4 linked regions of the Homo sapiens genome follow. The protein of the gene in region 4 purifies or fractionates together with the protein of the main gene of each other region. This does not show direct contact. Each region holds a gene or a part of one and is shown on either strand. Other genes may lie near its edges. The genes, in order: ZMYM1, DYNC1I2, UBLCP1 and PRUNE2.

Region 1 (8,820 bases), on a different chromosome or scaffold from region 4:
AACTGCACTATTAGATGTGCTTTATAATCTGTAATGTATAGATGAGAAAATTAAAATTTAGGGAGTATAAATGTGACAGAACTGGGTACCAAATTCAGGTTTTCTTATTTCAAGGCTAATGTTCTTACTCTAATTTGAGAGGTCATTTCATTTATAAAGAGAAGTTATAATTGTGTTTAAACTGTTTAATGATGTCCTTGTTATTTATTCTTAGAGACATTTTAAATCCAAAGGATGTGATTAGTGTCCAGCTGGAAGACACTACCTCTTGCAAAACTTTTTGCAGCCTATCTTGTCTTTCATCATATGAAGAAAAAAGAAAACCATTTGTTACCATATGTACTAATAGCATTTTGACCAAGTGCAGCATGTGCCAGAAGACTGCTATTGTAAGTTCCAATTATAACCTTTACAGGGATTCTGATGATTCTGCTTAAATATCAGAGTTTTTACTGAATCTTTTTATTAAATCCTAGATTCAGTATGAAGTAAAATACCAAAATGTGAAACATAATCTTTGCAGTAATGCCTGCCTTTCAAAGTTTCACTCTGCTAACAACTTCATCATGAACTGCTGTGAGAACTGTGGCACTTACTGTTACACCAGCTCTAGTCTGTCCCACATACTTCAGATGGAAGGACAGTCTCATTACTTTAATAGTTCAAAGAGTATTACAGCATATAAGCAGGTATGAATAAAGACCTATTGTTTCTTCTATTAACTGGCCTATGAATGGTTTCACTCTAGGAAAATGTGGGAAGTAGTTTTTGGTACCCTTTGGAATAATGTCGATAAGTTGATGAAGATGAAATAGAAGGCTTTTAACGGTTTCTTCTTGCATAAGAATTCATGATAAATGCTATATGGAGATTTTCCTAAATAATCTCAGATCGATTATCTCACCTTAAAGAAAAGGCAGGCAGGCTGGAGCCGGTTTATAAACTAGAAATAAGTATAGCAAAAATAACAATAGTCTGCTGGTCAATAAAACCCAAACACAAAAGTATTTTTGTTTTTATTTTTATGTATTTATTTTATTTCTTTCTTTTTTTTTTTTTTTTTTTTTTTGGTGAGATGGAGTCTTCCTCTGTCACCCAGGCTGGAGTGCGGTGGCGCGATCTCGGCTCACTGCAAGTTCTGCCTCGCGGGTTCATGCCATTCTCCTGCCTCGGCCTCCCAAGTAGCTGGGACTACAAGCACCCGCCACCACCACGCCTGGCTAATTTTTTGTATTTTAAGTAGAGATGGGGTTTCACTGTGTTAGCCAGGATGGTCTCAATCTCCTGACCTCGTGATCCACCTGCCTTGGCCTCCCAAAGTGCTGGGATTACAGGCATGAACCACCACACCTGACCTTATTTATTTTTTTTGAGACGGAGTCTCGCTGTCTTGCCCAGGCTGGAGTGCAGTGGCACAATCTTGGCTCACTGCAACCTCCGCCTCCCAGGTTCAAGCAATTCTCCTGCCTCAGCCTCCCAAGGAACTGGGATTACAGGCGTAAGCCACTGTGCCCAGCTATTTATTTTTTTTATTTATTTTGATTTTTTTGAGACGAGGTCTTTGTCAGCCAGCTTGGAGTGCAGTGGCAATCATGGCTCACTGTAGCCTTGACCTCCTTAGCTCAAGTGATCCTCCCACCTCAGCGTCCCGAGTAGCTGGAACTACAGGCACACACCACCACACCTGGCTAATTTTTAATTTTTTTGTAGAGACAAGCTCTTACTATGTTGCCCAAGCTTGTCTTACAACTCCTGAACTCAGCTGATCCTCCTGCCTTGGTCTCCTAAGGTGCTGGGATTACAGATGTGAGCCTAGCCATGTTTTTGTTTTTAATTCCACGTGTTTAACTCTTACACCAAACAATGCAAAGATGAATCAAGAATGTCACATGTGGACAGTCATGGTGGCTTACACCTGTTATCTCAGCACTTTGGGAGACCAAGGCGGGAGGTTCAGTTGAGCCAGGAGTTCAGAACCAGCCTGAGCAACATAGCAAGAACCTGTCTTTAAAAAAACAAACAAAAAATATCACATGCTTTCTCTGAGTCAGTCATAGGAGGAAATAATCCAGTGAGATTAGTATTATTTGTCCCTATTTCTGATAGACAAGCTCTGGGTGGGTGCTTCTGAGAGCAGAGAAAGAGCAAATGAGATGAGGTGGGACTTCTTAGATATGTTGCTTGTTCATATCATATTTTGAGACCCAACTCTATCCCTATACAGACTTCCTTAAAAACAAGCAGTTGGCCGGGTGCAGTGGCTGATGCCTATAATCCCAGCACTTTGGGAGGCCGAGGCTGGCCGATCACCTGAGGTCAGGAGTTGGAGACCAGCCTGGCCAACATGGCGAAAACCCGCCTCTACTAAGAATACCAAAATTAGCTGGGCATGGTGGCAGGCGCCTATAATCCCAACTACTTGGGAGGCTGAGGCAGGAAAATCTCTTGAACCCGGGAGGTGGAGGTTGCAGTGAGCCGAGATGGCACCATTGCACTCCAGCCTAGGCGACAGAGTGAGACTCCGTCTCAAAAAAAAAAAAAAAAAAAAAAAGCAGTTGAAGATGGGAGTCAAAACAAGCCATAATTCAAATAGATCATTTGTGACTCACATCTTTTCTATGGCCCCCATCTTGAGAGTATCCTGCCTTGGGACCAGAACGGAAAGCACAGAAGACTTCTCCCAAAGGCAGGAAATAATATTCCTTTTTTTTTCTTTCTTTCTTTTTGACACTCAATAGGCCTTGTTCTGGGTTGTTTTTTGTTGTTGTTGTTGTTGTTGTTTGTTTTTTGAGACGGAGTCTCGCTCTGTCGCCCAGGCTGGAGTGCAGTGGCGCAATCTCAGCTCACTGCAAGCTCCGCCTCGCGGGTTCACGCCATTCTCGTATCTCAGCCTCGCGAGCAGCTGGGACTACAGGTGCCCACCACCACGTCTGGCTAATTTTTTGTATTTTTAGTAGAGACAGGGTTTCACCGTGTTAGCCAGGATGGTCTCAATCTCCTGACCTCGTGATCCGCCCGCCTCGGCCTCCCAAAGTGCTGGGATTACAGGTGTGAGCCACCGCGCCTGGCCGGCCTTGTTCTGTTTTTAAAAGCCTATATGCCGGGCACGGTGGGTCACGCCTGTAATCCCAGCACTTTGGGAGGCTGAGGCGGGTGGATCACGAGGTCAGGAGATCGAGACCATCCTGGCTAACATGGTGAAACCCCATCGTTACTAAAAATACAAAAAAAAAAAAAAATTAGCGGGGTGTGGTGGCGGGCGCCTGTAGTCCCAGCTACTCTGGAGGCTGAGGCAGGAGAATGGCATGAACCCGGGAGGCGGAGCTTGCAGTGAGCCGAGATCGTGCCACTGCACTCCAGCCTGGGCGACAGAGCGAGACTCTGTCTCAGAAAAAAAAAAAAAAACCTGTATTGAGTACCCAGTTGTTCAGCTTATGTGATGGGGCAAGACTGATTTGGGTAAACGAGTTAGTTAACAAGCACAGCCTAACACTTTCCCCTTGCATCTGAATGTAAGACATCATGTGACAGTGATAATGGAGTAAATCTACAATGTTAGTGAACTATAATCCAGAATTAGAAAAATGTCCAAATATGTGAATCTAAAAATGGGGTAGCTTTTTATTTTTAAAAAGTGGATTATTAGATGTAATTGTAATTATTTTGGCCATATGTTAATAGAATATATTAAGTTAGCCTTCCCTTATGAATATTAAACTAACTTAATTATAAATGATACCACTATTGGGCCAGGTGCGGTGGCTCACGCCTGTAATCCCAGCACTTTGGGAGGCCAAACGGGAGGATCACTTGAGGTCAGGAGTTCAAGACCAGCCTGGCCAACATGGTGAAACTCCATCTCTACTAAAAATACAAAAATTAGCCGGGCATAGTGGCACACACCTAATAATCCCAGCTACCCGGGAGGCTGAGGCAGGAGAATTGCTTGAACCTGGGGAAGGTAAAGGTTGTAGTGAGCCGAGATCATACCACTGCACTCCAGCCTGGACAACAGAGCAAGACTCTGTCTCAAAAATAAATAAATAAATAAAAATAAATTATGCCACTATTGTTGCTTAACGTTAAAGATTAGTGAATTGTTAAGATTTCTCAAAATATAAAAGTTGTTCATACTAATAAAGGATAAAAATAGAAATTTTCGAAATTATCCTTTTTGTTTTGTTGTGCCTTTGCCAATATCCTGTTCTCTCACAGAAAAATAAAACGTATATGTATTTTTTTGTCTTTGTACTTTGGTGGGTTTTGTTTTGTTTTGTTTTTGTTTTTTTGAGACACAGTCTTGCTCTGTTGCCCAGGCTGGCGTGCAATGGCACGATCTCAGCTCACTGCAACCTCCGCCTCCCAGGTTCAAGCAATTCTTCCATCTCAGCCTCCCAAGTAGCTGGGGTTACTTGGGCGCACACCACCACACCCAGCTAATTTTTGTATTTTTGTAGAGACGGGGTTCCACCATGTTGGCCAGGCTGGTCTTGAACTCCTGACCTCAGATGATCTGCCCGCCTCGGCCTGCCAAAGTGCTGGGATTACAGGTGTGAGTCACCGTGCCCAGCCTGTCTGTGTACTTTGCATCTCCAAAAGCAGTTTTGTTCCATCGGTGATTTTTTTTTTTTTTTTTTTTTTTTAGACTGAGTCTTGCTTTTCCACCCAGGATGGAGGCTGGAGTGCATGGTGTGAGCAAAGCTCACTGGAGGCCCAACCTCAGGTGTTCAAGCAATCCTCCTGCCTCAGCCTCCCATGTAGCTGGGACCACAGGCATGCGCCACCACACCTGGTTAATGTTTGTGTTTTTTGTAGAGATGGGTCTCACTTTGCTGCCTAGGCTGGTCTCGAACTCCTGGGCTCAAGTGATCTTCCTGCCTTAGCCTCCCAAAGTGCTGGGATTACGGGCAAGAGCCACCACACTGAGCCTGATGTATTATTTTTTCTTTCTTTTTTTGAGACAGAGTCTTACTCTGTCACCCAGGCTGGAGTGCAATGGCATGATCTCGGCTCACTGCAACCTCTGTCTTCCTGGGCTCAAGTGATCCTTCCCACCTCAGCCTCACAAGTAAATGGGACTACAGGCGCACGCCACCACACTAGGCTAATTTTTTATTTTTATTTATTTATTTATTAGAGATGAGGTATCACTATTTTACCAGTCTGGTCTCAAACTCCTGGGTTCAAGTGATCCCCCCGCCTCAACCTCTGAAAGTTGAGATTACAGGCGTGAGCCACTGTGCCTAGGCTCTGACATATTCTGAAATCCAGGAATATTGGTTCCTGTTTGACTAGAAAGAATAGGTGGTGAGCATAATCTTTACAGTAATGCCTGCCTTTCAAAGTTTATATCCTTTCTTTTGCATGGTTACTACTTACTGAACTCACAGTACTCTATACTTTCTATTGCTTGTATGCTGCTTTCTTACAATATGCTTGTAATTTTTACCATGAAGTTAGCCTAGAAAAACAGTGATTCCCACAGTATCTTGTAAGGTATTTAAGTTAAGCACTCCTTCCTGGCTCCTCCTCAGCATCGGTAGACATCTTCCCAAGTTAATTCCCAAGCTACCATTGAGGACAGATCTATAACTATATAAGGCCTTTGTTTATCCAGTAGGCTTTGACTGCCTGAAATGAACTTCTGTGACCACTTTCTTCATTGCTTTTTTTTTTTTCCCTTGAAAAGGAGTTTCACTCTTGTTGCCCAGGCTGGAGTGCAGTGTCACAATCTCAGCTCACTGCAACCTCTGCCACCCAGGTTCAAGTGATTCTCCTGCCTCAGCCTCCTGAGTAACTGTGATTACAGGCGCTCGCCACTACACCTAGCTAATTTTTTGTATTTTTAGTAGAGACGGGATTTCACTATGTTGGCCAGGCTGGTCTCGAACTCCTGACCTCAGGTGATCTGCCTGCTTTGGCCTCCCAAAGTGCTGGGATTACATGCATGAGCCACTGCACCTGGCCTTACTGCTTTCATAGGTATTATTATTATTGCTGTTAAATATATCTGATAAATAATAAAAATCATTTTCAGATTTGCCAATATTCTTTTAGTTATTGCAATCTGTAGTGTCTTTTTAAGAAAATGTAAAAACTGTCTTAATTGTTATTCTTTTTAATATTCCAACTAAAAGCAGTGGTAATAGGTTCTTCTTCATTAACAACATATCATATACCAGGAATATGAATATTATTTTAATCTCTAAACAGAAACCTGCCAAACCACTTATATCTGTTCCTTGCAAACCATTGAAGCCCTCAGATGAAATGATTGAGACTACGAGTGATTTGGGGAAGACAGAGCTTTTCTGCTCTATTAATTGTTTCTCTGCATACAGTAAAGCTAAGATGGAATCTTCTTCAGGTAATGTTTGTTTAGCAATTGTAGGGGTTTAGTAATTATTAATAAATAATATTATTTGACTTTAATTTATAACCTTGATTCATTTTCAAATTAAACCGACTTTTAAAAGTCAAAACAATCTAAACTTGTTGCAAAGAACTGTTTTTCAGTATTTTTGTATAAAAGGAAGGCTACTTTACCACCAGAGATTTAATATTTGTAGGCCAAGCACGGTGGCTCATGCCTGTATTCCCAGCACTTTGGGAGGCCAAAGTGGGCAGATCGCCTGAGGTCAGGAGTTTGAGACCAGCCTGGGCAACATGTTGAAACCCCGTCTCTACTAAAAATACAAAAAAAATTAGCTGGGCGTGTTGGTGGGTCCCTGTAGTCCCAGCTACTTAGGAGGCTGAGACAGGAGAATCATTTGAACCTGGGTGGTGGAGGTTGCAGTGAGCCGAGATCGCACCATTGCACTCCAGTCTGGGTGACAGAGTGAGACTCCATCTCAAAAATAATAATAATAAAAATTAAAAGATACATGTCTTTTTTTAGATTATTTAGTAAATGAATATATGTATGTTTACATCAATATATATTGAGCACCTACTGCAAAACATGGTACATAGGAGGCACTTGGTCAATATAGAGTTTAATACATTTACAAGACTGCTTTTATTAGAATATAGAATGTTTTACTTAGCCCTGTTTTGTAAAAACAAGTTTTCATTACATTTTTCACATGAAATAGAAGTGATTGTAAATGCTTTAAGACTCAATAATAAAAAAGCACAAATAATCTGAGCCAACTAAGTATTCCATCAAAAAGCCTCATGTAGGACCAGTGGTGCTATTTACATAGACCATAGAGTGACTAATGCCTCTGGGATTTGTAAGTCATACAAACTGGCTTGTTACAGAAATTTCTGCAATAGTGGCTTGGGCACCAACCTAGCGCTCCATTGATGTTAAGGTTTATGAATCCTGGAAGAGTTTGAAATAGATGCCCATTAGGAGATTCAATCAGAATCTCTTTTCTTCATGAGTAATTTCACAGAAAAATTTGCTCATAATTTTAAACAAATTCTTTAAAAGGACTGGGAAATTGTGTACAAAGGTAAAAGACATAAAATGTTGGAGAAGTGTAAATTTTCAGTGTAATGTTGTAATTATAAATACGATACTAAAGAACCTGGCTATTCCTAAGCCCTAATAAAAATTACTTCAGTACCTACCAATTCCTTAAGCTATTAGATGCTTGCATTATTTCTTTAAACAGTATTACTAAACAGTACTTTCTGATGATTGATTTTGCCTTGTTTATAAGAAATCTTTTTATTGTTGTCAGTAAGTGTTGTTTCTGTGGTGCATGATACTTCAACAGAGCTTCTTTCTCCAAAGAAAGATACGACTCCAGTTATAAGCAATATAGTGTCATTGGCAGACACCGATGTTGCCTTGCCCATCATGAACACTGATGTCTTACAAGGTAAAAGTTGATGTTAAGATATTTGACATAAATATTGTTTTGTCATACTTGATAAATCTGTCTATATGCTAAATTTTCTTTTTGTTTCTTATATGAAATAAGCAAATATAGTTTATGATGCTATTTTATAGGTTATAGTATATAAGATCTTGAATTTATGCTCTATTTTAACAGATACAGTTTCTTCAGTAACAGCAACAGCAGATGTCATTGTGGATGTAAGTTTTAACTTTTTTTACCACTGTCTTTTTTTAATAAGCAGATTTTTGTTGTTGTTGTTGTTGAGACAGAGTCTCGCTCTGCCACCCAAGCTGGAGTGCAGTGGCGTGATCTCAGCTCACTGCAACCTTTGCCTCCTGGGTTCAAGCGATTCTCCTGCCTCAGCCTCCTGAGTAGCTGGGATTACCAGCGCCTGCTACCATGCCCAGTTAATTTTTGTATTTTTAGTAGAGAAGGGGTTTCACCATGTTGGCCAACCTGGTCTCGAACTGCTGGCCTCAGGTGATCCGCCCACCTTGGCCTCCCAAAGTGCTGGGATTACAGGCATGAGCCACCACACCTGGCCCAGATTTTTTATATATATATATAATATATACTATAATATATAAAAATATAAATATATAATATAAATATATTATAATATATTGTATATAATATAAATATATTATAATGTATATTTATTATATATTATATTTATATATTTAATATATATTTTATGTATTATGTATTCATATATGGGGTGTGTGTGTATGTTTGTAGATTGTTTAAACAGAAGTATTTTTTTCCTCTGGGTTCTTCTTTTAAAAAAATACTACACAATTTGAGTCATCTGAGCAATAAAAATTATTTTTATGACAATTACATACCAAAAGGTCCTTCAAACATTTAATGCTGAATCTAGATTGCAAATAAATAAGTTATACGTAATTGTTAACGTTTCCCCCTAGTGGAGCTCATACTGTAACTCAGCCATTTATTTTACTATGTT
Region 2 (8,820 bases), on a different chromosome or scaffold from region 4:
CTATGATGCTGTAAAGGCCTGTAATTGAAGAATTTGCTAGTTTATTCTGAACCTTTCTGTGAGACATTATAAGAGGATTGGAGCTTTACATTAGCTATTAGATTAAAAGCTGACTGGTAGAAGCATGATTCAGGTTGGCAGAGCTATTCCAAAATAATATTTATATCCCTAAACATTTCCGTGCTGAGAGCAAATTTCATTTTTGTTTTCTAATGATGGCCATAACTGGCAAAAATGGGTTCTAAGGGATATCTATTGCATGATTTATACCTAATTTAAAGCTTGTAAAACTTATTGAGTCACACAGACCAATGGGAAAAAACAAAGTTTATAAAAATGTTACAAGAGATAATACAATGGTATTAAACTGTGAGTCTATTAATATATTTTTATCAACAGTGAAGCATCAGCTTGATATTACAACCTGTTTTGTTATTTTGATTAATTTTTCTGATGACTTTTAAGTCAAAATGGCATAGAATATTATGGCTAACAAAATTCACTCCAGACAGTGTCTGAGTAATAGTTGTCTAGGTGGCATAGGGATTTGAGATTTACATAAAAAAAACTTTTCCTTGGAAAGCTTACATTTTACTTGAGAAGTCTTGGATGATCTGAGAGTATTGAGGTTTATCTAGTTTAACCAGCAGATTGTGCTAAAACGATAAATAGCCGAGATAAAAGCTGACAAAAATTTTCATAACAAAATGTTTTGTGCTATGCAAAAGTGAGTTTAATTTTACAAAACACAATCCCAAATAAAATGAAGACTTTATACAGAAGTTTGTGATACTCTTTTTCAACAAATCATATTGTCATTCACTTAAAATTTGTTACCTCTTAAATAATTACACTTTAATTTTTTCATTGTATGTGATATTGTATCTAACCTTTTGTGCCACTTGGGGGAAGTTGTCTATTATTCCTGACCATAGACAGCAATTTCATACTGTAGATAATTCGAAGTTGACTGTACTTCTTGAATTTGTCTGTTAGGAAAATTTTTGTGGAAACTCCTTGATTACATATGAAGATAGAGCAGTTTAGTACATATCATTTGAAGGTTATTTACTAGAACTCTATTGAGAATGATTTTCATTTAATGACTATAAAAAGAACTTAACCTGTACTCAAAACTAAGTTCATGCCTTAAAAGTATACAGTGTTAGCATATTATTTAAAACATTTTTGCAAACAAATTTTTCATACTATATGTAAACATAAGTTTTTAACCTAAACATTTTAGACAGACCAGAAGAAGGAAGCTGTTGCTCCTGTGCAAGAAGAATCAGATCTTGAAAAAAAAAGGAGAGAAGCTGAAGCATTGCTTCAAAGCATGGGGCTAACTCCAGAATCCCCCATTGGTAAGGTTAAGAATATATCCATTTATAAGAGATAGGCATAGATTCTGTTCAGCTCAGACATAGCTGAGTGGATTGACTTGATATATTTTACATATTTTCCTTGTGTCTCTAAAATTATTAATCTTTTATTTGGAATTGTCTTTTTTTCAGATATGCTAGTACATGGTTATTTTATTTGTTCAAAAGAGCTGCAAGAGTAATTATTAACATATACTGAACTACCAATTGACTTCTCTTATTAAATCAGTAATTTATTTCAACAAACATTGGTTAAGCAAGTTTTATGTGCCATACTGTGTTAAGCTCAAAGATAACTAGGATTCCTGATCTGAACTCTATATTCCTTTCTGGAGATTAGCGAGAGATACAATCAGACTTATATTGTTAGAATGCAAAATATATTAGTATTCAAAGGTACAGGAGTGGAAGGATAAGCTTATAGCCTTCTGCTGTTAATGCTAATAAGGGAGATAATTTTGTGGCTTATTTTCGAAGTGATTTGACTTAATCTTATTATTTTTCTGGGTTATTCATTTTGATAACTGTACTAGACCAAAAAAGCTGAAATAGTAGAGGTACACAGGACAATCTAGTTACATATCAGGAACAAATGCTTACTTAAAATAGTTCTGTGCTGGGTGCTATTATGTAGTATTTTAGTTTAACATGGCCTTTATCCTTTAGAGACCTAACATTTTAGGGCTAGTTGGTGGGCTAATTTTATCTAGTCCAGGGGACAAATACTGGAGATTGTAAATGCTCTATGCTTGTTGTGAAACTGCAACATAACTGTCCTTAGAGCTGATATTTCTAAAAGGTTTCAAGATGAAAAGGCTGGCTACTCTCATGGTCAGCTTCATTGTTATTTCTTTCAGCTCATTTTCCTTTTCTTGTAGAATTTGAAGACTGAAGTATATTAATTTTATGTATTTATTCAATAAGCTTATGTTGAACATGCAATTTTAAAAGTAAATGAATCAGAACACTTAATTTCTTGTAACTAAACCAAGTTGCTTGTTAGCCTTTGTTTGAGTTACCTTTTTTTTCTGTGCTTTGGCTTTTGTTTTTCTCCTATAGGATTTTTTTTCTTTTATGTTCTTCTTAAGACTTTAGTTTCACTGAACTCACTTGTTCATATTTCTTTCTTCTTTTTTTTTTTTTGAGGCTGAGTCTCACTCACTCTCCCAGGCTGGAGTGCAGTGGCACAATCTCGGCTCACTGCAACCTCCACCTCCTGGGTTCAAGCGATTCTTCTGCCTCAGCTTCCTGAGTAGCTGGGACTACAGGCTTGTGCCACCACGCCAGCTAATTTTTGTACTTTTAGTAGAGACAGGGTTTCACCATATTGGCCAGGCTGGTCTCGAACTCCTGACCTCATGATCCACCCACCCCTAAAGTGTTCATATTTCTTAATTTATGGCTGGGTTAGTTCTTTGTGTTGCTATAAAGAAATACTGAGGCTGGGTAACTTGAAAAGAGGTGGCTGGGTGGGGTGGCTCACGCCTGTAATCCCAGCACTTTGGGAGGCCGAGGTGGGCGGATCACCTGAGGTCGGGAGTTCAAGACTAGCCTGACCAACACGGAGAAACCCCGTCTCTACTAAAAATACAAAATTAGGTGGGCGTGGTGGCGCATGCCTGTAATCCCAGCTACTCAGGAGGCTGAGGCAGGAGAATTGCTTGAACCTGGGAGGCAGAGGTTGTGGTGAGCTGAGATCTGGCTATTGCACTCCAGTGTGGGCAACAGGAGTGAAACTCCGTCTCAAAAAAAAAGAAAAGAGGTTTAATTGGCTCATGGCTCTGCAAGCTTTACAGGAAGTATGTTGCTGGCTTCTTGTGGCAAGGCCTCAGGAAGCTTCTAATCATGGCAGAAGGCAAAGGGGCGTCAGCATGTCTCATGCAGTGAGCAAGAGCAAGAGGTGGGGGGAGGTGCCACACAGTTTTAAACAAAACCGTGAGGGATCCGCCTCCATGACCCAAACATCTCCCACTAGGCCCCACTTCCAACACTGGGGATTACATCTCAACAAGAGATTTGGAGGGGATGTCCAAACTGTATCAATGGCCCATCTCCATCATTAATTCTTGAAAGACCATTCTTTAGGGTTTGTGTATGTGTCCCTCATTTCTCATCTCTAATTCCATTCTCATTCCCACTAATGCATTAAGTGACCACTTTTGCAGTTTTTGTTTGTTTATTTGTTTGGTTTTTGGTTTTTTTTTTGAGACGGAGTCTTGCCCTGTCGCCCAGGCTGTAGTGCAATCACGTGATCTCAGCTCACTGCAACCTCCACCTCCCGAGTTTAAGCGATTCTCCTGCCTCAGCCTCCCAAGTAGCTGGGATTACAGGCACGTGCCACCACACCTGACTAATTTTTTGTATCTTTAGTAGAGACGGGCTTTCACCACGTTGGCCAGGCTGGTCTCGAACTCCTGACCTCATGATCCGCCTTCTTCGGCCTCCCAAAGTGCTTGGATTACAGGTGTTAGCCACCATGCCCGGCCCACTTTTGAATTTTTAACATACATCCTTCAGATTATCCTCTGTTTTTCAAGGTTTCACATATCTCTGTGTATATATACTTTATATATATAAATGGCATAGTGCTGTATGTCTTTTGTTTATTCCATGTTGCTATATACGTATTTAGTCATTTATTTCTAATATATAATATCCTATTATGTACCACATTTTACTTATCCATTCCCCCAGTGCTATGCACTCAGTTTCCTTTTGTCTCTTTGCTTTACTATCATAAGCAACACTGCAAAAAATATGTGTTTTTTCCCTTGAGGACTGTGGAATACTTTCTCTGGGGTGTATCCCCAAGAATTTACTTGCTATGTTATTGTATATAAGACTTAGCTTAATTAGGTTCTGCGTGTCACTCTCCAGAATGGCTACAAAGTTTACCCGCCCGCTACCAGTGCATGAAAAAGTAACTGCTTTACCATATTCACATGATGACTGGATATTATCCAGCTTTCTAATTTTTGCTAACTTGATGAGTATAAAGTGGTACACCAAAATGTTTTAATATACATTTATCTGATTACAGTGAGGTTGACCACCTCTTTATATATCTTTTAACCATTCAAGTTTTCCCTTCTGTGAACTGCATATTCATGTCCTTCTCCCCATTTACTATGATTGAGGTTCTTTATCTTCTGATGTATAGGCATTCTTTGTGTATTTTGTATATTTTAGGGAGGACTTTTGTCTGTTTTAGTCTTTTTAAAAACCCTTCTAATCTGTTAACTGCTTATAATATTCTTCATTGAACAGAATCCTCTATTTTGATATGATCAAATCCTTCATTTTGATATGATCAAATCTAGCAATTACAGGCTAAGTATTCCTAATCCAAAAATTCAGCATTCAAAATGCCCCAAAATCTGAAACACTTTAAGCACCAACATGACACTCAAAAGAAATACTGATTAGAGAATTTCAGATTTCAGATTTTTAAGTTAGGATACTGAACTGCTAGGTATAATGCAAATAGTCAAAAATCCAAAATAATCTGTCACCTTTGGTCCCAAACATTTTGGGTAAGGGATACTCAACCTGTATAACCCTTTTTTGTGTGCTTTTGGTCTTTTTTAAAAAGAAATTGTTTCCTACATTGTGGATGCAAATATATTCTTCTATGTTTTTCCTATTAATTTTATAGTTTTACCCTTCACATGTAGATATTTGGGTTATATTTTTAAAAATAGTATGAGGTAGGGATCCAACCTAATTTTTCTCTATATAGGTAGCTAATTTTCTCAGTGCCATTTGTTAGTCTATCTTTTCCCCCACTGAAGTCCGATGCCAACTTTGTCATACAGTAAATTCCCATATATTTATGGGCATTTCTGGGCTCTCTATTTTCACTATGAATCTATTTGTTTGGTTCTACACAACCCAGTTTTAATTACTGCACCTTTGTATTATATTCTAATTTCTGATACAGAAAATCACCCCCTTTGTTCCTTTTACAAAATAGTCCTAGGTTCACAAACATTTTTCTTTCCTCAAGAAATTTAGTTTGTTTCCCTCCAAAGTGTTGCTGTACCATACATACATTGCATTGCTATATGTTTTTATTTTTCTTAATTATTATTATTATTATTATTTTTGAGACAAGGTCTTGCTCTGTCACCTCGGCTGGAATGCAGTGGTGCAACCATGGCTTGTTATAGCCTCAACCTCCCAGGCTCAAGCGATCCTCTCACCTCAGCCTCCCAAGTAGCTGGGAACATAGGTGCACACCACCATGCCCAACTAATTTTTTTGTTTTGTTTTTGTTTTTGTTTTTTTTTATAGAGATGGGGTCTCACTATGTTGCCAGGGCTGGCTTTGAACTCCTGGGCTCAAAGCGATCCTCCTGCCTTGGCCTCCCAAGGTGCTGGGATTACAGGCATGAGCCACTACACCCTTCCTAATTTTTAAAAATCTTGAATATTCTCCACACACATACTACTTTTTGCCTCATGATATCTACTTGTTGAAGAGGGTGGGCCAATTGGTTTGTAGACTGTCTCCCCTCCTGGGTTTGTCTGATGGCATTCTCACATTTAGCTTTTATCCCTTATATTTCCTTTAAACTGGAAGTTAGATTTAAAAGCTCAATTTTGATCTAATTCGAACTGTGTGTGGTGGTTCACACCTGTCATCCCATTACTTTGGGATATGAGAGAGAAAGGAAGAACGAAGAAAGATATTTGGGAGGCTGAGGTAGGTGGATCACTTGAGCCCAGGAGTTCAAGACTAGCGTGGGCAACATGGCAAGACCCTGTCTCTACAAAAAAAAAAAAAGAAAAACAAAATTAGCCAGGCATGATAGCAGGCACCTGTAGTCCTAGCTACTGTGGAGGTTGAGGTGGGAGGATCAATTGAGTTTGCAAGGTCAAGGTGCTGGCCATGATCGCACTACTGAACTCTAGCCTGAGCGACACAGCAAGACCCTATCTCAAGAAAAGAAAAGAAAAGAAAAGAAAAGAAAAGAAGCTTGATTCACTTTAGGCTGAACTTTTTTGGCAAGAAAATCTCATAAGTGATGTTGTGTCCTTCATATTGTATCATATTAGTAGCACATCTCTGGCTATTGAGCAATGCTAAGCTTGATTATTGGGTTACAATTGTGATAACCTGATCTCTCCATCATAATTAGCCCCTTGTGACTAATAGGTAATATCTGAGGGTGATACTTGGGCACTATGTGACTATTAATTTCTTTATCAGCCTTTTATCTGATGGTGTTAATACTCATCGATGATCCTCATCTAAGTTATTTAATTAAGAGTTGCAGCATTGTTTTTGTAATTCTGCCATTCTTTCTGCATTTATTGGCTAAAGCTCTTCTGTAAAGGGGAGCTTTCTCTCAATAACTAGGGGTTTTGGTTACCCTAAATGTTAGAAAAGCAGGAGACATGTTTACTTTTTTGCTTTAATTACTCATAGTCACCTCTAGGCATGGCAGATGAGTTTTTGCATGTATTTTATCTCTTTTTTTTATTTTTTGAGACAGGGTTTCACTTTGTCACCCATTTTGGAATGCAGTGGTGCGATTTTGGCTCCCTGCAACCTCCGCCTCCCAGGCTTAAGCAATTCTCCCACTTCAACCACCCGGGTAGCTGGGACTACAGGCATGTGCTGCCACCACACCCAGCTAATTTTTAAATTTTTAGTAGAAACAGGGTCTCACAGGCCAGGCACGGTGGCTCACACCTGTAATCCCAGCACTTTGGGAGGCTGAGGCGGGCGGATCACGAGGTCAGGAGATCGAGACCATCCTGGCTAACATGGTGAAACCCCATCTCTACTAAAAATACAAAAAATTAGCCGAGTGTGGTGGTGGGCGCCTGTGGTCCTAGCTACTTGGGAGGCTGAGACAGGAGAATGGAGTCAACCCGGGAGGTGGAGCTTGCAGTGAGCCGAGATGGCGCCACTGCACTCCAGCCTGAGTGACAGAGCGAGACTCTGTCTCAAAAGAAAAGAAAAGAAACAGGGTCTCGCCGTGTTGCCTAGGCTGGTCTTGAACTCCTGAGCTCAAGCAATCCACCCACCTCAGCCTCCCATAGTGTTAGGATTACTGGTGTGAGCCACCACTCCTGGCCTGCATGTATTTTAAAAATAGATTAGCTAGGCTGGGCATGATGGCTCACGCCTGTAATCCCAGCACTTTGGGAGGCCGAGGCAGGCAGATCATAAGGTCAGGAGTTCGAGACCAGCCTGGCCAAAATGGTGAAACCCCGTCTCTACTAAAAATACAAAAATTAGCTGGGCATGGTGGCAGGCACCTGTAATCCCAGCTACTCTGGAGGGTGAGGCAGGAGAATCGCTTGAACTCGGGAGGCAGAGGTTGCAGTGAGCCGAGATCGCGCCATTGCACTCCAGCCTGGGCAACAGGGTGAGACTCCGTCTCAAAAAAAAAGAAAAGGAAAAGATTAGCTAATATTTTATTGAGGGTTTTTTGTATATGTACTAATGAATGAAATTTGCCTTTGATTTTCTTATACTATCCATGTTCATTGGTCATCATGGTTATGGTTTTAAAATAAATTGGTCAGTTTTTGCTTTTGCTATTTTGTAGAATAATTTATAAAAGATGCCTGTTTCTTAAAAGCTCATTAGATTTCCATTTTAAAACTGCCTTGATTATGACTTTTTTCTACAGAGAGTAGAGAGCAGGGGTTATTCATCATTTGGAGTGTGTGTGTGTGTGTGTGTGTGTGTGTGTGTGTGTGTGTGTGGCGGCGGGCGGGGGTGCAGTTTAGAGACAGGGTCTCAGTCTGTGGCCGAGACTGGAGTGCAGTGGTGTGATCTCAGCTCACTGTAGCTTCAGTCTCCTGGGCTCAAGTCCTCCTGCCTCAGCCTCCTAAGTAGCTGGGACTACAGGCAGGTATCACTATGCCTGGCTAGTTTAAAAAATTTTTTTTTGTATAGATGGGGTCTCGCTATGTTACCCAGGCTGGTTTCAAGCTCCTGGCCTCAAGTGATCCTCCCGCCTTGGCCTCCCTAACTGCTCAAGTTTTTTTAATGGTTATAGTCTCTTCAGATTTTCTATTTCTTCTTATGTCTGTTTTTTTCTCCCCAAAACAATAAACATTTATTATCTCTTATAGTTTCTGCTGGTCAAGAATTTGGTAGCAGCTTAGCTAGGTGGTTCTGGCTCAACTTCTCTCATTGGGTCAAAGTCAAGATTTCAGTTAGAGCTTTAGTGATCTGAAGTCTTGACTGAGGCTCGAGGACTTGCTTTCATGGTGGTTCGTTCACATGGCTGGCAAGTTGGTGTTGGTTGCTAGTGGGACAGCTGAGTTCCCATCCTCGTGGGCCACTCCACGGATCTACTTGAGTATCCTGGTAGCATGTTAGCTGGGTTCTCCCAGAGTGAGCAATCGAAGAGAAAAAGAGAGTCAGAAGAAAACTGTCCTTTTTATGACTTAGATTTGGAAGTCACAAAGCATCA
Region 3 (8,444 bases), on a different chromosome or scaffold from region 4:
TCTTTCAAAAGCCTTATTTAGGAAGCTACAGCAGTTCTCCTCACAGATTATCCAACAAGAAGTAATAGCAATCAGTGCTCCAGAGAATTAAGAACTGGGAATAAAAGTAAGAGGGATTTGTATTCAATTAAATAATTGATTTACCTCTAGATTCCTGAAAAGTCATCAGTTTGGCCTTTAGTGTAACAAATTATACACATACACTAATGTGTGTTCATCATAGCCATATTGGTTTATGGAAACATCATTAAAGCTTAGCAGTCTTTGTTTTTGATATTTTTAAGGTTTTGTTTCTACTGTTTACAAATGTTCTTAAAAGCTGTAAGTTCAGCTTTTAAAGCTTTTTGGAAGCAAACCAGCATTTTAATGAGTAACAGTTCATATCAGGAAATATCCTTATGTTTGCATTTAAGTGCTTGCTTACTTCCAAAGTGTTTTTACGAAATTATTAATGTGGGAGGTGTGCAAGATTTTAAACACTTTACATGGAAGCTCATTGACATTACTAGATAACTGACACCATTTTTAGCCCTACAGGATGCTTCGTATTGATTTCAGTTCTTATAAGGCACTAATTTCTCAGAAGTCTTTGCTAAATCTATGAAACTGATTACAAAAAGATTCTCTTAAGATTTAAACACTAAGCACTCTGAAGAGATGCCTGCAATCCCAGGATCACTGCAGCATTATTTACAATAGCCAAGATATAGAAAAAAACAAAGTACTTATCAAGGGATGAATGGATTTTTAAAATATGGTGTATATATATATGAATACTATTCAGCCTTAAAAAACTCAGGAAATTCTGTCATTTGTGACATGAATGAAGCTAAAGGACATTATGCTAAATGAAATAAGCCAGGTACAGAGAGACACAATACTATCTCACTTATACGTAGAAATCTAAAAAGTCAAACTCACAGAAGCAGAGAGTAAAAGCGGTTACCAGAGGTTGGGGAGGGCGGTGGTGGTGGATGGGGAAAGATGAGATGTTGGTCAAAGAGTACAAAGTTTCAGTTTAATAAGAGGAATACATTCTGGTGATCTATTGCACAGCATAGTGACTACAGTTAATAATAACGTATACTTCAAAACAGCTAAAAAAGAGGATTTAAAATGTTTTCACTACCAGGAAATGATAAATATTTGAGGTGAATATGCTAATTAGCCTGATTCAATCATTCCACATTGGATATATGTATCAAAACACTATATTGTACCCCATAAACAACTGTCAATTAAAAATTTAAAATATTCAGATGTCTCACCAAGACTCACGTAGCAAAACTAAATCTTTACATAAATATCTAAGCATTTAATCTTCACAGACATTTCTTGGGCTAGTTCATAAGAAGATTGAATTTTGATGTAAAATACTTCATTGGAGACCATAACAGTTCGTCCCTTGAGAGAGCTCTGTTGAGTACTTGGGATGAGAAAACTCAACCGTTTATTATTCATGTTTTATTACCATTCTGACCACCCAATTGTTATTAATACCTAAAAACCAAGCAATAACCTAAAATGCAACTAATCTGCGTTTTTTTGCATATCCTTTTTTCCCAGTCCCTATCCTGTAGTTCCTCTTCCTCTCAAGGAACTATTTTACTTTCCATGAATAAAAAATAAGTTTCAGTTGCTTACTGTAACAACCTGTTTTTCCATTCCTTACCTTTTACACTGAAGAGCTGCTATAGGTATCATTAGTCCAATAACTGATTTCGGTAACAAAGACCTGAGGGGAAATTAGAAACTTCCCTCTGAATCAAAGATTTACTGATGTTCTGTAGTTTTTAGGCTAAATATACTTCGTATAATACTGTTTTAATGCTTAACACATGTATCTGATAAAAATAATTTGTGGTTTCACCAAAATATGCATCCAAATTAAGTGATCTATTGATTCAATTGTGTGTGCCACACACATAGATATATAGAGATGGAGCTGTTCAATAAGCCATGAGATGCAGAAGACAAATGAAAACTCCCACACTCTATAATGGTATTAATCACATATAGCACGTTATCTCAACAAGCTCAATGACAATGTTCTCCGGAGTGGCTTAATTAAGCACAGCAGCTAAGAAGCTTTGGTTTGGGCACCACCTAATGGCAGAATATGTTTTTGTAAAATTCTACTTTGCTCCCTGTGATTTGCTAACTTTTGTATTTTAGTTTATACTGATTTCGAAAATGTCTGCCCGTTCTTGACCTATGTTAATAGTTTAAGTGTTCCATTTTCTTGAGAAGATTAAGCCCTTTCCGTGCGTACTTTGGAATAAGTTGTCTTTTACAGTGGGAAAAATGTACCAATGAAAAATGAATACTCTAAAATTTCTGTTCTATCCTTAAATATTTAAATTTTACTTCATAATTAAGAAATATATTTTAATTGAATCACTTTAGAGTCCTCAAACTCTTCTGCACTGTATATCCTCAAAACCTGTCACAAAGAAAATAGTATATATTTCTGAAAAAAGGTACTTATTAGAATTAAGTAATTTTATGTATCTGATTAGCTGCTAAAACTACTCCTGAATGTATAAATAGTGATATACACACCTTTAACATCACCATACACATTTAAGTTTTTGCAAGAGATCCTTGCCTGAATATAATGTTCATTTTGTCATTCAACAAAGAGGTAAAATATATGTGGTAATATAGAACAGATAACGAATGTTTTAAGAAAAGATATTTATTATTTACACCACTGAAATTAGTCCTGTAAGAACAATATACACCATGTTTCTTTAAAAGGATCAATTCCTTTCAAATACAAGAACTGTATAAAGCAATATTGTCAACACAAAACAGTGGTCACATTACGTATCTGCAGGCTTAAGCATTGCAAATAATATATTTTTTTAATCTTATGGCTAGATATTTTCACTGAAACAGTGTTAGCACTTAGACAAGATATAGCTGGAACAGAACAAAAACTTTTTGTTCATGCTTTTTAGGAATGAATCAGTGATATGTCCCTTTTAAAAATTTATTGCCTTTAACTGCTTTTATGACAATGGTTTTAGGAAGATTCTACTTAGCCACCAAAAAGAGACTCATTCTTGTTCCTTAGTTTTTATTCTTCAGTCTTCTGTTTCTCATACTAAGACACAGCTGTGTCAAGACTGACATTTTCCAGCTTTACTTGGACATGTACACACATACAGGCCTAACTGAGACCGCTCAGAATTTAGAAATGTAACTAGTGGCATACAGAAGAGAAATTGTGTCTATGACAAAGAAATAAAAAATTCTTGGTAATTTTAAGCATAGCAAACTAGGTTCTTTAATTAAAAAGTTTTTTTTTGTTTTTTTTTTTGGTTTGTTTTTAAAGGGAAAAGTACTAGTTTCAACATGGGTTTGGTTTTAGATTTAGTCAGACAATAACACAATGAGACAAAAACACAAAACATAACTTGTTTCCAAAGTCACAAAATGACATTGTTGAGTATACATTTTTCTCCACTTTGTGTGTGTGTGTGTGTGTGTGTGTGTGTGTGTGTGTGTGTGTGTGTGGTGGGAGGGTGGGGTGGTCAGTAACCAACGCTGGAGAAAATATTTTTCAAGCGTAACAGAATATTCATATAGGGGACAAGCATTTTTTAGCATATTGCTATCATCTTCAAAAAATATAAAATTAAATTTACAAAAAACTGGAAGACCAAGTATAAGCAGTATGGTATTTGCTTCAGTGTCCAGCACTATCATAATGATTTCTAGCATAAAAGCAAGAAGTTCTTGGATCTTAAGTATCTTCAATAACTGCCAGTATAACTTGTAACTACTGTCCTTGCTTCTTTGAGAGATATCTGCAAGAAATAAAATAAAGATGTCAAAGCTGTATCATGCTAAATTCATGAAGATAACCTAACTTTGCTCCCAAAGGAGTTTGTTCTAATGACAAAACATTTCAAGATGAGTATTCTTAATAGTCACTTACATCTACTGATTATGTGCACGCACAGTTCTAAGTACATGTATTAATTCATTTAGTCTTCACAACAGCTCTGAGGAGTTACTATTAGAATTATTCCTATTTTACAGGCACAAAGAGGTTAAGCAATTTGCCCAAATTCACACAGCTAGAAAGTGGAAGAGCCTAGATTCAAAACAAGGCTCCAGAGGTCATACTCATTGACTACCACTCCATACTGCCTTACTTCCAATGTGAAAGTCACTATATTAACTAGTATTGTAACTTCCAAATACAGATCAAACTCCATAAAGATCTTATTTTTGTTACATCAAGACAGTGGGCAAAAGATGCTAAAGGTCTTTGATCAAGAGTGTAAAAGATATAAGACATTACTAAGCAAACAAGTGTTTTTCATATTGTTTAATAGAAATCTACCACTAAATTAAAAACTTGATCTCTATTTCTAACATTTACAAACTACTATAATTGGTGGTGTGGGGATGGGGAAAGAGTTCCTAAAATCAGCAAACTTGGACATGTTTTGCTGGTACAATTTGCTCACTTTGTGGCACTGCACTAAGTATTTACTATCTCCATGACTCAGTTACATCATTTGCAATTTAAAGATGGGGGTAAAAATGTCTGCTTTATCTTCCTATTAGGATTATAGACTCTTAGAAGACTTGTGTCAAACTGATCTGAAAAGTCAAAAGTGGAATCTGAAAAGCCAAAGTGTTATTATTACACAAATAGTTTCTTTTGGTGCTGTATTACTGGAACCAGATCCTCAAAGATCTAATTCCCCCCCAAATACTGTAATACATAGTAATACCTTCCACTTCTCTGGGGACTTTTCTCTGTCTCAAAACCTTGATGTTTATAGGCAACGTCTATATAGATTTGTGCAAACATTTGGGTTTAGATAAAAGACTGAAAGACTATATACCAAGATGGTAACAGTGGTTATCTTTAAAAAGGAAAATTATGAGTAATTGTTTTTTTAGTAGGATAAACTTTTCTAATTTCTCTGCTACACTCAAGTTACTGGTAATTTTTAATACTATTTATGAAATTTTTACATGTGTTTTATCTTATCCTGACATTAAGTTACAGTATGAGAAGAGGGATTATATTCCATGTGATTCATAAAGGAGTAGCTTACCTAACATCACAAAATAATTTACAGGCAGCATCACCAACATATGCTAGTCTCTCAAGTTCTCTCTTCTAGAAGTATTAAAGAGTTTACAAGAGGTATGTTTATGAACAAGTTAGAGGTTAAGATGAAAGGGGAAAATACTTTTGGGGGTAGGTCACTGGATTAGAAAATGTTTTTAGAAGTCACCTATTTTAAATAAAAATTAAGACAGCTATATATATACTGGGGTCACTGATGAAAAATGATAATTTTTTCTTCATTGATGTAAAGAGAAAATAAATAAGCAATTAAAACTTACCTTTCCCAATATTTGTGATTTAGATCCAAAAAGTCATCTAATTTTGCTATCTCCTTGAGGTACTGAGTTAATTTTAAAAGTTCTTTGTCTTTATCACGATTTAGGTGCGCTTTCATAAAAGGCCTTATCTATTAGGAAACAAACATTACTCAACACATCACAATGTGATAAGGAAAACTAACAAATCTATACTATCATTTCAATTAGAGTTAATGAGGTTAAAATATCACCAAGAACATAAATACTAAAAATTACTTTTATATTAGCCTAAATAGAAAGTCATGTATAATGTTTACAAATTACAAACTCTTCTACCTATTTTACCTAACATTATCTTTTCAATCTGAACCTGACAACACCAGCTTTCTTATTGCACTTGAATCCATACACAGCTACTCTACTTTGCAAAACTACTTAGCCTTTCCCGCCTCCTATCATTCTAGTTGCTTCTAATTAATTTCATTCACATTATTTTATTCATAAAAATTTAACCCCAATACCAGCTTGATCTAACAGTACAGTGAGATAAATTTTAACGATGATTTTTATTTTATTTTTCTATTAAATTTTTATATAGCTGAGATATCATTATACATTTATATAACCTGTTTCCTCCTACATTTTATCATAAGCATTTTTCTTTATCATTAAATTCTCTGTTAAAATCATTTTTAATTATGCAAGAGTTTTCCATAAAAAGAACTGCCATATTTTCCAAATGTTTAAGGCTGATCTATTTTATGATGAAAAAGAGTTTAAAAAGCATTATTTCAAACCACACATGTCAGAATAATAGACCGAGGTAGGGGACTGCAATTAGTAAGGAATACCATATCTTGACTTGAGTGGCGGTGCTATGAATGCATATGTTTATATGCAATCTTCATCTAGATTTGTGCATAAATCTATGCTTAAAAAGACTAGAGGACTATAAATCAAGATGGTAATAGTGTTTATCTTTGGAAAGGAAAATCATGAGTAATTTTAGTGGAATAAAATTTTTTACAAGAATTATCTTTACAGTTTGTTGAACTATAAATTTATGCACTTTTCCTTATTTTATAGCTTCAGTAAAGAATTCTGCTGTTTTGTAAAAGACACCTGCTCAAATATCTTTATACAACTCAAGATAGTCTTTCAATAATTTTAAATTAATTTTAGATAATATGATATGACTAAGATTTACTTCAAAATATTAAGGAGAGGGAAGTAGCGTATAGAGCAAACAATAACCATCCATGAATTAATAAGCTAATTTAAACTGAATGATATCTACATGGGGGTTTAAGCAATTTTATATAGTTCTGTTTACATTTGAATTTTTCTGTTATCGTTAAAAAAAAATCATACATATTCCTAAAGCACACATATTCCTAAAGCACACATGTAAGGACTGATTTCATCATACTTAGCAAAGTATTAGTATATTCTTTTGATTTGGAGAAAATGCAAATTGGTCATTAGTTTTTTTTTTTTTTGGTCATTAGTTATTAATTTTACACAGTTAACACTGAAAAATGAATGATATTTAATCATTGTCACTTACTGAGAAGCAAGAACAATGAGTGAGCCCAAAGGAGTCTACTACCATACCTATTAAGTGTAGGGAAGGGTTTAAGTATTTTTTACATACTTTTCTTCTGTCATTGGAAAAACACCACCCATCTGAAATGGACAGAAGAAAATTTTCCCAGGTGTTCTACTCTCATCAGAACAGCTTGGTGCCAGTGACCTCCACACTGTTAGCTGGCTCCCATACTGCTTGAAGGGCACCAGTCAAGAGCTGTCAAAGGGAGTCTCCTCAGAAATCAGCATTTGTGGGAGATCCCACTTCCAAAAAGGTAGTGCAGCAGTGCTGTTTCCGAGCAGCAGTGAATGTGGGGGCTGAAGACGACGCTTTACAGGGCCTTGCTTAGGCCCTGGGGATGGGAGTAAACAGAGTCATGATATGAGGATGTAGTGAAATGAGTTTCTGCATAATCCTGGGTGATATGGTAATGTTTTAAAGTATTCCTTCATTCACTTCCTAAGGACTGAAAGGTAACAAATTAACTTTTAAGCAATTAATATATAATGTACCAAAGTGTCCAAATTTAAACAGCAGGAAATTACAGGGTTGGTGGGTAGTAAATAAGATTTTCAACCCAAGGCTCTGCTAAGTTATTTTTACTTTCCAAACATTTGCTCTTAAGCACTATTAAACAACAAAACTAAAATATTCTAATGATTCTGGTTCTAAAATTTTAAATAAACAAATTAAGGGTGAAAATCTATGCACCTAATTGACTTCACTTGCTCCAGTATAACCACTGTTTACTGTACATTTTTAAAAACTGATCTAAGTGATCACTAAAAGGACAGGAAACCATCATCTTGTCTCAGGTCAAGGAAGCATTTTTAGAAACTTAAGACTGTCTAGATAAGCTGAATTCTCCTATATCATAATTTCCTTGTACAGACAATAAAAATGGAGTTTTCAGCCGATAAACTGCTTTATCCATGACCAAGATTCACATTCTTTTAGTGTAATTCTAAATTCATATTCACAGTACCTTCCATGTACTTCAAACCTTATGACTGACAAGCTTATGTTTAATAGAAGTTAACTATTTTAAAAATGAGCAGTCTTATTTTTAAGATCTACATGAAATCTTTGAGATTTCTACCAAGTGCATTATGAAAGCATGATAACAAAACACAGCATTTGAGGATATTTCTCCATTTTAGAACTCTTTCTGGGCTGGGCGCAGTGGCTCATGCCTGTAATCCTGCACTTTGAGAGGCCGAGATAGGTGGATCGCTTGAGTGCAGGACCTCGAGACCAGCCTAGGCAACATGGCGAAACCTTGTCTCTACCAAAAATACAAAAATTAGCCAGGTGTGGTAACGTGCGCCTGTAGTCCCAGTTACTTGGGAGGCTGACATGTGAGGATCACTGGAGCAAGGGAAGTCGAGGCTGCAATGAGCTCTGATCATGCCACTGCACTCCAGCCTGGGTGACAGAGCAAGACCCTGTCAGAAAACCCCACCTGTTTCTATGCCGACGTGGGCAGATCTTTAATCTT
Region 4 (6,940 bases):
TTTCCTCTGCGTGAGTAAAGGCTGTGTCCGGATGATCACAGACTGGCAGCATGGTGTCCTGACACTGCTCTTGGGTAGGTGTTTCAGGAGTCAGCTCATCACCAGCAGCAGACACAAAGGTTTGCTCTCTTGAGTCCTTTTCTTTAATTTGGTCTAATTTTACAAGCTGGCTGAACTTGTCAGCATCTGGGTCTGGCTGCCTTGGTTGAATGTTCCAGAGTTGCTCATGGGAGTTCTTCCCATTACCTTCCAGAAAGGGTGACTGATGGTTGTCACTAAAAGGATTAGTATAGTGTGTTTCCACGGGCTCAATATCACCCTGAACTGGTACTCCCCAGGGACTGGCATTTTGGTGTACTGAAGAATTTATCTCCAACACACCACTGGAGTCAGACAGCTCCCTTTCAAATGGACTTTCAATTAGTCTCCCTTCCTGGGGTGAGGCCTTCCACCACTCAGTGCTATCAGCTGAGAAGCCCAGCATTTCCAGTTGAGAATTATCTTCGTTCTTTGGGAACGAAGCTTTGGGAGATATTTGCCATGCAACATCTCCTGTTGTCCCTGTTTCTGGAGAAGATCTCTTCTCCTTCTCCACTGCTGTAATCTGCATTTCAGTCTCCGTTAATGGTGAGAAAGTCCAGGGATCAGGGCTGCTTTGTTGATTGTCACAGAATGGGTTTGACTTATTCTCATTCTCTGCTGGCTCTGAGCTGTCTAGGTAGTCATAAATATTTTCAGACTTAGGATCAGCTGTGACCAAGAACTTATTAGATTCATTCAATGAATCCCAAGCTCTGGATTCATCCTCAGCAACGTGGCAGTTGGCCACCTGGATCTCTTCCTCTATTGACTCTTCACCACCGACACTGTCATCATCAGAACCTGAGCTTGTTGAAATGACCCTGGCATCCTCTGGCTGCACAGTTGCAGAAATGTCATGTTCATTTTTCTCCTGGTAGCTAGCAATTAGATTGCTTTCCTGATGTGTCCCTGAATGTTCAGAATATTTGCCTGTTTCAGGACTGGATAAAGAGGAAAAGGAATCACCATCAACTGAGTCATTCCAGATCTCTAAAAATGTAGGAGTTTTGCGATCAAAGCTCTTTTCAAACTCATTTATTCTGTTTTTCTCTAAATCCTTCACTTTGGTAACTATTTCTACTTGGCCATCAGTGGTAATTAGTTCAGATTCTTGGTGATTCTGTTCACTCCAGTTGCCTTGGTTTTCTTCTTGATACCCAGAACTGGGTTGCTGGCCCCAGGAGGACAGTGCAACTGAAGAGTCATTTAACTCAGGACTTGATGCACTTGAATGAGTATACTCACTAGAAATAGTATCTCTGTCAAAATTTCCAGACGAACCGGCTCCTGGAAGGCTATTTTCAGACCCCTTAACGTCAAGATTTTTGGTTATCTCAGAACATGTGCTGCTGACATGCACATCACTGTCTATAGGGACGTCCCCAAAATCAAGACTTCGGGGAACTCTGTGAGGTGGCCCTCCACCCACGTTCTCTGGCTCTAGAAAGTTACATTCTTCAGTTTTCTCAAGATCCTTTTCAGGTACAGATACATATTTTGTGAAATTCATCCCATCTGAAGTCTCAGTAGTTTCACCTGAATTTCTTTGACTCATGAGGTGTTTTTCATGGGTATCTTTTGGCTGCAGGTTATCTGCGGACATCCCTGTTTGCACATCACGGGAGTCTAGATTGTAAGACCCCTCCTCATACTCTAAAACTTCCTCTGGTTCCTCGGTTTGAGGACTGAAAGTGACAGCAAGAGAGCTGATTTTGCCTGATTTAATGCAGATTTCCTGATGTTCAGATGCAACCAGAGAAGACAGTTCCTGGTCACTCTGCCCTTTTTCAGAAATCCCTGAGGCATTCTCCACACCAGAGGCGATCACCTCCTCTTCATCAAGGTGCCCCCTGTCAGTGGCTCCCTGGGCTTCCTTCTCACTTTCACTTTGTCCATCGCCATGACCTTTCCATGGATCTGGGTGTGGAAAATACCCTGGATTCTCAAGCCTAGTCGCCAAGGATGCTGCATCACTTTGCAGGGTTTCCCTCTCTGTGTCCTGCTTGTCAAGATGAGATATAAGTGCCTCTGATTCACTGGTTCCAGAGGCTGCTGGCGCATCTGGGGAATGAGTGTCTTTAACATTTGCTGAATGGCTGGGGATTTCAGGAGGCAATTCCCTTTGCTCTGAATCTGTGATATGTGAGGAGCCTGGTAACATGAATGATGACATGTCTTTATCTCTCATGACAGAATCCCAAATACTGTTTGCAATTAGCTGCCCACTTTTCTCATTCAATGTGTGATGTTCACTGGGAGCACTGTCCTTGGTATGCTCATCAGAGGCAGGGAGCTCCCAATCTACCTGATTTGCTTCCTGATACTCCAAGCCCCAGGGTTCCAGCTGTCTCACTGTAAATCGGGTTTCCGGCTCGGAACCTTCAGCCATGTATCCTTCTGTTTGACCATCACTGGGGATTGCCGCACCCCCACTGCAGTCATCCCAGTCCAAATCATTGTCCATATCTGAGATCGTTGCAGTGGACTGAGTATCCTCCAAAATCACTCTGTTCCACAAGTCGAGACTGTCAGGGGCCGTCTGCCGGGAGTTGGTGCTGCTGTGCAAAAGTGTGAGTTGTCGGTTTGTTTCATTGTACAGTTGCATCATGCTGGGGTCGTCGTAACTGGACTGGCTGCTTTCCCCGACGTCATCCTCCATGGAGATATTCTTACCATCTGTGTGCTCTGTCTTGAGTTCATTTTCATCCAGGTTGTGAGTGGTATTTATTTCAGAACTGTTATCTGTATGAGGTGAAGCCCACATGTCTAGGTTCCCAGGACCTGAACTGATTCGATTTCGAGATGACTGTTGCAGTGACTGAGGAGGAATGTCAGTCTCCTCTGCCGTGGAGTTACCATCTTTTGACTCAAAACCTTCCTCTTTAGCAAATGGCTTGTGTTCAGTTTCCTTTTCGTCTCCAGCAAATGTTGGTGATGTGTAAGAGTCTGAGGTGGAATAATTGGTATCTAAGGGGGAAGGCACCGAATCTTCTCCTAGGTTGGATGCACTGTAATCAGAACATTTGTAAGATAAGAAGGAATCTTCCCAAGGAACTAGGACATCTGACCCTCCTTTCTTCATATTCTCCTCAAAAAGGTTCCAGGAATCTACCTTTTCATATACCTTGCCCCTAGTTTTAGGATCCACTAAACCATTCTGATCTTCTTTTGGTGGCTTAGAATTAGTCCATGTGTGATCCAGATCAGAACTGGGATTTCCAGGTGCAAAGATGTGATCCCTGGAGTCATTGTTTTTCTTGCCCCAGATTTCTGGAGCTGCTTCATTGTTTATCTCACTGGGTGAATTGTCCAGTAGTTCTGAAGAAGAAAAGGCAAACCCACTTTTTGCCATGGCCCACTCATTCGGGTCCCTAACAGAAGGTGTCTTGCTGCTTGTTGGGTGCAAATTCCAGGTATTTTTTAAAGCTTCATCATGATCTTCTTTACCAAATGCACTCCAGGCTGGGAATGGCGCCACAGCTGCTGGTTCACCATCATCTGTAGGATTTCCCCAGGGCTCGGGCATGGCTGTGGGAGAGCGACCAGAATGCCACAAAGAAGCAAAGTCTTCTATCAGGTGGTTTGTTCCTTGGGGAGATGTATTTGGCAAAGGTGACTTCTCCATGGGCAGGTTCTGGAACGGCAAGCTTTCCTCATTTTTGTCTTGAATATCATTGCTACCCAGTTCAGGCTGACCAAATTCAGACTCCCAGGGACCTGACTTTGTAAATTCGAGGCTCTTTGGTTGAAATACAGAATCTGAGGCTCTCCTATCAATGGAGCTTGGCTTATGCTCTTTCCATGATTCAGGGCTCTGGAAAACAGATTCCTGTTCACTGGAACTCCACGCATCTGCAATATTTTTGGAGTCAATTTCCAAACCACCCCACCAGCTGCTGCACCGTGCATGGGTCTGAGGTGGCCCCATGTGACCTGTGTCAGTTGCTTTTTGGGTCATATCTTCTGTATAGAGTGAGGCTGGTTCTTCAGTGGATGGCGAGCTTTCTACTAAACTATTCATGGGTGTTGGTGGGATCCTCTTTCCAGTATTTTTTAGCCTTTCTGGGGAAGGGGATTCATCTCCCACAAAATCTGTCAGGCTCAAATTTCTTTCAGAGTTATCTCTGGGACTGTCTTGTCTCTGGACAAACTCCTCATCATGTTCCACAAGGCTATCTTTGCCAGCCCCTGACAAAAGTGAACTGGATGAATAATTAGACATGTTGGTTCCCATGCCATCAAGTCCTTCAGGCCCAGCGGGGAGCTGTCCTTCTGACAGGTCACTGTTGGGGAAGAAGTCATCTGCTGGGGAGTAGTCTGCAGAATGAGAAGATTGCTGGGACTGCCCAGAAGCCATGGGTGCTGGGTCAAAATTGAAGAGGTCGAAGTGCTCACCGTGTTCTCCAGACCATGCATGTTCCTCCGCCACCGCCCCTTCAGGGATGGGGCTGTAGGAGTCAAGCCCTGGGAGAAGGGTGTGGTGAGGCCCAGCACCTTCTCCCACGGGGCTGTCGTCACTGAGGAAAACAGAGCTCTCCTTGGATGAGCGGCTGCTCCTAATGGTAGCCAGTCCGCTGTCTGGGCTAACAAGGTCTACATTGGCATCCACCTGAGCCTGGTTAGAATCATTGAGATCTGGAGGGTTCTCTATGAAATTCACAGAGCTGGGTTGTGGCTCTATGTCAGAACCATACAATTCCATAATCCCAGAAGACCCCTGGGAGAGGGGGGCACTGCCTGCCACGGCTTCTGTTGAGGATGTCCGGCTATTGGAGACCATCTCTGGACACCTCCTGTTGATGACTTCCTTGACAACGAGAACCACCTGATCACAAGTCACTGAAGGGTCCTCTTGTTGGTACACCAGGATCTCATCACAGCCACAGTCAAAGGGCTCCAGTTCTAGGCAAGGGTTCTGACACTCTTCCAGCTCACAGCAAATCTGTCGGAAGGCACAGGAATTTGTGTCAGCACTCAAGCACTGTTGCACTTTGCAATTGCACTTTGCAATTTATCTCGCTTAATTTTTAAATATAAAATTAATCTGTGTTCATCTGTCTGAAAAAGAAGATCTCAAACTTAGAAAGTTCTGATTACTGTACCACCAACCCTTTCTCCAATTCTATCCAACTGTCTCTCTGTTTAATTCAAAATCCAGGTGCTCGATTTTGAAGGCTCCTGAACGTTTGGGTAAAGGAGTTTAAACCACCTATTCTTTCCTAACTGTAATATAATACCATCTTCCAATAGCAATGTAATTCGAGTTGCAAAAAAGCAGAGATAATGCATGTTGCTGACAACTATAGGAAAAGTGTTGGAATAAGGGGACAATATCAGGAGACAGGCTGTTGTTTGGGAGGGGGCAGCCAGGGCTGCTTGAACCTCTGATAGCTTCAGAATGCAAAAGAGAGAGTAGGAAAGACAAAGATGCTCCCGCAGTCTGATCTTTCCGAACAGCACTCAGGACCCCTCAGTCCCTTTCACCCCAGGTAACGGAGGCATGGAGCCCAAAACAGGCAAAGCTAACCTGGGAGGCAAGGGGACACTGACGGATGGTCAGTGTGAGGCCAGAACTGGGTTACGGCTTTCTGATTTTTAAGGAATGTCAGGAGTATTTTGTTGTGCTGGGCCTTTGAAATGGCCCCACGGGATTAGTAGAGATAAAATTAATAATAATAATAACAACCACCACTACCACCATGGAGCTCACATAGATACTACTACTACTACTAATTAACATTTATTGAGTGCTTTCATGTGCCAGGCATGGTTCTAAGGGTTTTATGATCATTATCTCTTTTAATCACCACAGTAATTCCACAAGGTAGGAACTCTTTTTATTCCTATTTTACCCATGAAGAAATGAAGATACAGGAAGATTAAATAACTTGTCCAGCAACACACAGCTAACAAGTGCTGGAGCCTGAGTTCTGTACCCAGGCAACCTAGCTGCAAAGGCTGACTCGGCCAGTGGTGTGACCACACAGGCCAAGAGGAACTCGCTAGGCCAGAGCCAGGACTCTGTTGCTTAAGATTCCAGCGATCCACCTCTGGCTATTGCTAGGATGGGGAGGGTGGGTGGGGAGAAGAGAGGAGGACTGGGGTCAACTCAAGAGCTTTTAACTCCTTCATCTGCTCTTCTACTTTTGTCTGTTTCCAATGAACCAATTTTCACATTGGTTTGAAAAAGGGGTCTACTGCTAAAAGTGATGTGAAAGCCGCCATGTTGTAGGCTTCCAAGGCCTAAATCCCGTCCCTGGGAAGCCAGTGACCAAAGATGAAATTTAGCTTTGAAACCAAATGCAGAGGAAAGTGATGAAAAAACCACAGGCTGGTGATGCAGGTCAGAGGAGGAGATGCTCTTTCACATTCGGACTTGAGAGAGCCCGAGAGTACCCATAGGCATGGGTCAAGAGAGCTACAGTGGAGCTCTTGGGGGACAGAAAGGAGGATGTAGAAAAGAAAGGGGCAGAGACTGTGCCTCTAGCCACCCATGGATACATAAGGCATTGAATCCATTAGTGAAGAGAAATAAGTAATGAAGCATCTGGGGCCCCGTGTGGCTCCTATTATAATGAATCATGTATGTTCTCATATTAGTTATTAAGTACACCTGGCTTGGTATATCCGATGGCCTATTTTGATTAATTTATCTAATTCTTTTTTTTTTTTATTTCCTAGGCCTTGGGTTAAAAGACTCAGCTATCAACCTGGAGGATAACTGATTACCTAGTCAGAGTTCTGGTACCTGGAGACAAACTAACTTTGATTAAAGCATCAGATCACCAGGTCTTAAACACTGGGCACCAAACCGGTCCTGGGACAGGGGCTAAACCTTGTCAGTTATGATCAGGGAGCA

What was found.
Region 1: the proteins of PRUNE2 (region 4) and ZMYM1 purify together in Homo sapiens (affinity purification with mass spectrometry; one large-scale study listed by BioGRID and IntAct). This does not show direct contact.
Region 2: the proteins of PRUNE2 (region 4) and DYNC1I2 fractionate together in Homo sapiens (co-fractionation; one large-scale study listed by BioGRID). This does not show direct contact.
Region 3: the proteins of PRUNE2 (region 4) and UBLCP1 purify together in Homo sapiens (affinity purification with mass spectrometry; one large-scale study listed by BioGRID and IntAct). This does not show direct contact.

What each region holds. Positions count from the first base shown.
Region 1 is NC_000001.11:35,104,081-35,112,900, forward strand, and holds part of ZMYM1 (zinc finger MYM-type protein 1), read left to right. Parts: intron 1-214; coding exon 215-389; intron 390-476; coding exon 477-689; intron 690-6,213; coding exon 6,214-6,367; intron 6,368-7,691; coding exon 7,692-7,832; intron 7,833-8,006; coding exon 8,007-8,050; intron 8,051-8,820.
Region 2 is NC_000002.12:171,691,531-171,700,350, forward strand, and holds part of DYNC1I2 (cytoplasmic dynein 1 intermediate chain 2), read left to right. Parts: intron 1-1,246; coding exon 1,247-1,364; intron 1,365-8,820. UniProt on the Homo sapiens protein: Acts as one of several non-catalytic accessory components of the cytoplasmic dynein 1 complex that are thought to be involved in linking dynein to cargos and to adapter proteins that regulate dynein function.
Region 3 is NC_000005.10:159,280,275-159,288,718, reverse strand, and holds the end of UBLCP1 (ubiquitin-like domain-containing CTD phosphatase 1), read right to left. Parts: intron 5,508-8,444; coding exon 5,380-5,507; intron 3,816-5,379; coding exon 3,788-3,815; 3' UTR 2,683-3,787; downstream 1-2,682. UniProt on the Homo sapiens protein: Dephosphorylates 26S nuclear proteasomes, thereby decreasing their proteolytic activity. Recruited to the 19S regulatory particle of the 26S proteasome through its interaction with 19S component PSMD2/RPN1.
Region 4 is NC_000009.12:76,706,336-76,713,275, forward strand, and holds part of PRUNE2 (protein prune homolog 2), read right to left. Parts: intron 5,024-6,940; coding exon 1-5,023. UniProt on the Homo sapiens protein: May play an important role in regulating differentiation, survival and aggressiveness of the tumor cells.